Linked DNA regions of Homo sapiens. Changing the gene in region 2 together with the main gene of any one other region gives a genetic interaction. Each region holds a gene or a part of one and is shown on either strand. Other genes may lie near its edges.

What was found.
Region 1: changes in TAOK2 (region 2) and CKM together harm fitness less than expected from each alone (positive genetic interaction), as found in Homo sapiens cells (one large-scale study listed by BioGRID).

Annotation. Positions count from the first base shown.
Region 1 is NC_000019.10:45,305,811-45,309,605, reverse strand, and holds the end of CKM (creatine kinase M-type), read left to right. Parts: intron 1-1,073; coding exon 1,074-1,197; intron 1,198-1,955; coding exon 1,956-2,145; intron 2,146-2,677; coding exon 2,678-2,856; 3' UTR 2,857-3,193; downstream 3,194-3,795. UniProt on the Homo sapiens protein: Reversibly catalyzes the transfer of phosphate between ATP and various phosphogens (e.g. creatine phosphate).
Region 2 is NC_000016.10:29,986,102-29,988,927, reverse strand, and holds the end of TAOK2 (serine/threonine-protein kinase TAO2), read right to left. Parts: intron 2,664-2,826; coding exon 948-2,663; 3' UTR 570-947; downstream 1-569. UniProt on the Homo sapiens protein: Serine/threonine-protein kinase involved in different processes such as membrane blebbing and apoptotic bodies formation DNA damage response and MAPK14/p38 MAPK stress-activated MAPK cascade.

The DNA.
Region 1 (3,795 bases), on a different chromosome or scaffold from region 2:
ACAAGCGTGAGCCACCATGCCTGCCCTCAGGTTTTTTTTTTTTTTTTTTTGAGACAGGGTCTTGCTCTGTTGCCCAGGCTGGAGTGCAGTGGTGGGATCATAGCTCGCTGCAGCCTGGACCTTCCAAGGTCAAGTGATCCTCCCGCCTCAGCCTCCCCAGTGGCTTGGACTACAGGCATGTGTCCCACCATGCCTGCTAATTTTTTAAATTTTGTAGATATGTGGGTCTTGCCATGTTGCCCAGGGTAGTCTTGAACTCCTGGGCTCAAGCAATCCTCCGGCCTTGGCCTCCCAAAGTGCTGGGATTACAGGCATGAGCCACCACACCCGGCCATTTCCGGATCTTAATATTTTATGTTCTTTTTTTTTTTTTTTTTTGAGATGGAGTCTCGCTCTGTTGCCCAGGCTGGAGTGCAGTGGCGCGATCTCGACTCACTGCAAGCTCCACCTCCCGGGTTCTCGCCATTCTCTTGCCTCAGCCTCCTGAGTAGCTGGGACTACAGATGCCCGCCACCATGCCCAGATTTTTTTTTGTATTTTTTAGTAGAGACAGGGTTTCGACGTGTTAGCCAGGATGGTGTCGATCTCCTGACCTTGTGATCCGCCCGCCTCGGCCTCCCAAAGTGCTGGGATTACAGGCGTGAGCCACCGCACCCAGCCTTAATATTTTATGTTCTAAGATCCTGCTTCTGAGATGCTAGGATTGGGAGCTAACACACTACGATGGGAAGATTTTCTGGTCCTGAAACCAGATGTAGGATTACCAAGTGTTATCAGTTCTGATCCCAAGCTTCTGTTTGTCAAACATCCTGAGATCCCAAGGATCTATAATAATACTGTTCAAAGACTTAAGTCCCTAAAAGTCCTTGATCCCAGGATTCAGCGTTTTGCAGATCCTGTGACATTAGAGTCTACAGGTTTAAGCTTCTGCGTTTTGAGGAGGCAGATGCCACCCACCTCCCACCCCTCAGGCCCTCTTCCCCCATCGGTGGGCAGATGTTTTGGGGGAGGGCTGGGAATGGGGTTCCCACGGGGCTGACACCTTGGCCTCTTGCTGCGGCACCTTACTCTAGGCACAATGACAACAAGAGCTTCCTGGTGTGGGTGAACGAGGAGGATCACCTCCGGGTCATCTCCATGGAGAAGGGGGGCAACATGAAGGAGGTTTTCCGCCGCTTCTGCGTAGGGCTGCAGAAGGTGGGTGTCTGCCCTTAGCTGCTGACTTCTGACTCCACCTTGAACGCCCCACCTGCTTTCCGAGGCCCCGCCCCTTCCCCTATACTAAGCCCTGCCCCACCCATTTTCCAGGGCCCTGCCCCCCGGACCTGGCTCCACCCCATGCCAAACCCCGCCCCCCAAAACTAGCCCCACCCGCTTTTCAGGGCCCCGCCCCTGGACCCAGCTCCACCCTATGCCCAAGCCCCGCCCGTAAGGATCCGCCTTCAGGCCGGGAGCGGTGGCTCACGCCTGTAATCCCAGCACTTTGGGAGGCTGAGGAGGGTCAGGAGTTCAAGACCAGCCTGGCCAACATGGTGAAACCCCGTCTCTATACTAAAAAATTAATAAATAAATAAATTATCCAGGCGTAGTGGCGCGCGCCTGTAGTCCCAGCTACTCGGGAGGCTGAGGCAGGAGAATCGCTTGAACCTGGGAGGCAGAGGTTGCAGTGAGACGAGATCACGCCATTGCACTCCAGCCTGGGTGACACAGAGAGACTCTGGAAAAAAAAAAAAAAAAAACCCGCCTTCAAAGCGTTCTTAGTCCCCGCCCCTCAAAATCCTGCCTTGGTCCCCATTGTCTAGCCAGCACCCTCGGAATCTCCTACCTCCCTGTTCCCCTCAGAATCCCACCTCCACCACGTTCCCACGCCCTGTCCCTCCGGACCCTGTCCATGTTGCGGGTGCATTTGGGGGTGCCTGCCGGCGCTGACCCCTGGTCCTCTCTCTGAACCTCAGATTGAGGAGATCTTTAAGAAAGCTGGCCACCCCTTCATGTGGAACCAGCACCTGGGCTACGTGCTCACCTGCCCATCCAACCTGGGCACTGGGCTGCGTGGAGGCGTGCATGTGAAGCTGGCGCACCTGAGCAAGCACCCCAAGTTCGAGGAGATCCTCACCCGCCTGCGTCTGCAGAAGAGGGGTACAGGTACGGCTCCCACATCCTTTGCACCACGACGGAGGGGGAGCGAGGGCCCTTTGCAGGGATGCAAGGAGAGGTGCGACATCCCTGCGAGTTCTGGGGATCCGGCAAGGGCTGACCCTCTGTGAGCTTGCATTTCTTCCTCTGTAAAATGGGTGTCAATATGCCTATGTGATAGGAGTCAATGTGGGATTTTCATGATTATATAATATGCATTGCACATGCCCTTGGACCTCCCTCGGGGCCTCAGTTTCCCCATTTATAAAGCGAGGAGTGGTCAGGATTCGACCCTAGGCCGCCTGGCTCCAGAACCCACTCTCTTACCCACTATACTATGTTTGATAACTGAGTGGCGTGGTACCCCATCTGAAGTCAGAGACTCGTGAGCTCACGAATGAACAGGCATTACCTGTGTGCAGGTAACCTGTTACACAGTAGGCACTCACTACATGCGGCTGTTGCATTTGGCACGGGGGCCACGTCCCAGCCCCTCTGCACCTTCGCTGCCTCTTCACGCCCCTGTCCCTTGCTCCCACAGGTGGCGTGGACACAGCTGCCGTGGGCTCAGTATTTGACGTGTCCAACGCTGATCGGCTGGGCTCGTCCGAAGTAGAACAGGTGCAGCTGGTGGTGGATGGTGTGAAGCTCATGGTGGAAATGGAGAAGAAGTTGGAGAAAGGCCAGTCCATTGACGACATGATCCCCGCCCAGAAGTAGGCGCCTGCCCACCTGCCACCGACTGCTGGAACCCAGCCAGTGGGAGGGCCTGGCCCACCAGAGTCCTGCTCCCTCACTCCTCGCCCCGCCCCCTGTCCCAGAGTCCCACCTGGGGGCTCTCTCCACCCTTCTCAGAGTTCCAGTTTCAACCAGAGTTCCAACCAATGGGCTCCATCCTCTGGATTCTGGCCAATGAAATATCTCCCTGGCAGGGTCCTCTTCTTTTCCCAGAGCTCCACCCCAACCAGGAGCTCTAGTTAATGGAGAGCTCCCAGCACACTCGGAGCTTGTGCTTTGTCTCCACGCAAAGCGATAAATAAAAGCATTGGTGGCCTTAGCTTTGTGCGATAGTTATTGAGGGAGGACGTGCAATTGGCCACTGTGTGGTCTCAGAGTGGTTTGTCCTGTCTAGGCATGTACTAAACATGTCTTATCCCGGGTCTAAAATGAGGCAAAGTTAGGTCACAGAATCTAGTCCAAAAATTAGAAGGCTCTATGGGGAATCTGAGACCCAGAGAGACACTGAGCCCAGTGTCACTCACCCAAAGCATGGGCCCTTTCCAACTATGGCTTTGAATTAGTCATGCTCAGATCTCAAACACGAGGTCCACGCTGGGGAGGAATGCAGCCAAACGAAATGTCTGAAACTTGAATTTAGCCCAACGGTCTCCAGTTTTGAGACCTCCCATGCAGCTCGTCACATCTACCTATATTCTGCTTCTCAGTGGCCTCCTTCTGTCCCGTCTGACTTCATCCCTCTGTAGCTGCTGCCAGTCCCTTACTTTCTCAAGAACCTGCCATGGCTCCCCATTTCTCCTAGAAAGCTTTTCTGTTATTTTGCAACTCAAGGCCACACTGAAATGCATACCATTTGCTGGAGGCTCACCTTTCCAGTTCTTTCCCCATTACTCCTCTGATTCTTTCACACCTGACACCCTC
Region 2 (2,826 bases):
CAGCTACCACCCTGACCAGATCCGCATTCCAGCCCGGCCCCTCACACACTCAGCTCCCACTCCAGGCCCACACTCAATCCTGCTGCCACAGCCTTCATACTCCGCCTGGTTGCCCCCAGCTCAGCACCCCCTACTGTGGAGGGTCTGCAGCCCCGTCCCCCAACCCACTAGGGTAATGCCTGATGCAGGAGAGCAATTTGGTCCCCTGCAGCCATGGTTGGGAGAAAAGGCAAGGGATGAGGAGACCAAGGGCCTGGAAACTAAGACCTCTGGAAGGAACCCGCAAACAGGCGCTCTGTGGGACCAAGAAGTTCGGTGAAGTTCTACAGGGGCCCAGACCCCAGAGCCGGTGGTGGTCATGGTGCAATGAAGCTATGAAGGCAGAGAGCATGAGGCTGGAGGAGTGAGGGGGCTGAGATAACGGAGATGGGGTGAAGAGGTCATGGAGCCGGGCCGAGGGTCAGCCTGGGGGCATACCGGGGAGGCTAGGCGGCAGGACAAAGCAGACAGAGGCAGCCTGGGCCAAAGGCACAGTTCCGCTCAGATATTTTATTTGTGTTTGTCTTTTTCTTTTTTTGGTGGGGGGAAGGGGACAGGTTGGAAGGGAGACAGAAAAACAAAATCAAAGAGGAGAAAAAAAACATGACTCTTCCCACCCTCCACCACCCCTGGCCCCAGGCCTGAGTCAATGAGGGTGAGGATGAGCACACACAGCGGGCGAACAGCAATAACTTAGGGGAGGAGCGCCAGGAGAACACAGAGTGACTGCTGGACTCCACAGCTGAGGAGGCTGCCTGTCTAGAGGTCCGAAGGGCTGGGCCTGGGGTAAGTGAGCAAACTGAGGAAGGTGGGTGAAAAGAGAGGACTAGGGACTGGAGAAACTTCACTGAGTCGTGGGAGATAAAGTGCTCAATGCTCTAGATTTGGGCTGGAAGGGCTGGAGTCAGCTACCTCCAGGGGGGCAGGGCCCGGGACTGGCGGGTGCGTGACCTCCGCCCGGCTAGAGTCCCTGGCAGTGGCTGGCGGGAGGCAGGGGGCCCTAGCTGGCGCTGGCTGCGTGGTAGTAGCCGGGGGATTCGGGTGGGCCGTTCACCCCGAAGCAGGCCCCAGCTGGCCAGTGTGTGGATGGCCCACGGGGGCAAGTGGGATGCTAAACCCTGGCTGGCCCGTGCCAGACGCCAGTTCCAGCCCTTGCACAGGACCCAGACCCTTGCCAACAGAGCTAATGGGTGTTGGGTGGTGCGGGGATTACGCCGCCGGGGCCCAGGGACGGGCAGGCGGCTGCGGAAGCCATCCTTGTTGGTTTTGGGGTACAGTGCAAACAGACCCCGGTCCCCCACAGCCCCACAGCCCTGCAGGGCCCGGAAGGCCATGGGTGACAGGCGCAGCAGAACCCGCAACCAGAGTCGAGATATGCCCCGGCGCACCCGGGGGCCCTGCTGCCGCACCCATCTGCCCCCCGCTGCCATAGCCACCAGAGGTAGAGCTAGGCCTGGCCAAGCTAAGAGCCAGGCAGCTCCAAGGCCCAGGGGAACACCCATGAGGCCTCGGCGCCAGCTCAGGCCCAGGACGGCCCCCAGTGCGGTACCCTGGGCCAGGAGTAGGAAAAGACTGGAGGGCAGGTGCAGGGCTGTACAAAGGAGCAGGTAGGAGGCCCCCAGACCCACCAGCCCCACCTCAAGGGCCAGCAGCGCTGCCTGCAGGCCACCCCCACCCTGGGCTGCCAGCAATGGAAGCAGCAGCAGCAGCAGGAGGGGCAGGAGGCCAGAGGAGGACCCCACTGCAAAGGAGAGGCCGGCCAGGAGGCCATGGGACAGGAGTCCAGGGAGCTGGCTGGCAGGGCAGGGCCTCAGGTGTGTTGGAGGGGGTTCAGGAGGGATGTCGGGGGAAGGACAACCATCTCCAGGATCCCTAGGGGTCCCAATCGGAGCCCCCTCTTCCTCTTCTTCCTCCTCCTCAGGGACGGGAGTCAGTGCTGGGCCCTGGACCCAGCCAAGCTCAAACTCCTCATCCAGAAGACTCTCATCCTCCTTCCCCCACAAGCTCCATGTCCCAGCCTCCTCCTGGCCAACAATGCTCCTCTCCTGGGGTACAAGGGAGGGCACCCTAAGCTCCTCTATCTCCTCAGGCAGACCCCAAACTTCCTCATCAACCAGGCTCCCATGTTTTTGTGGACTGGGACTAGGGGCTCCTGATTCTTCCCCCAGAATCCTCTGCTGCTTGGGCTCCAAAGTGGCCCCTTCCTTTCCCAGAATCCTTCTCTCTCCAACTGCTTCCTCCTCCTCGCCAAGCATTCTTTGGTCCAGGACTGCCTCCTGGCCAGGTGAGCAGGGCTGCTGTTCTATAGGGGTGCCTGTGTTGGGTGGGCCCAGAGCCCCAGGAATGGGGAGTGGAAGGCCCGGGGGGCGCTGGCCTGCACGTACTTTGAGGCTCTTGGGCTGCTGGCGAACCTGGGCCGCATGCTTCTGCCGCAACTCTTGCTCACGCCGCTTGTTGTACTCCAGCTGGTTGCCCAGCTCCGTCTGGTGCTGCAGGCGGGTGAGCTCAGCCCGCGTGCGCTGCACGGCCTGGAGCTGCCGCAGCTCCAGCTCCCGCGTGGCCTCGTGCTGCCGAAGCAGCAGTGCACACTCCAAGTCCTTCTGGGTCTGCTTCTTGTTCAGGTCCTGAGGCAGAAGAAATGCAGGGCCCGGGGCCTGGTCAGTATCAAGGAAGTGAGAGGCCAGGGCTCCTTGGCAGAGGGAGCTGGGGATGGCGGAAGAAACACAGGGCCCAGGGCCTGGTCAGTATCAAGGAAGTGAGGGGCCAGGGCTCCTTGGCAGAGGGAGC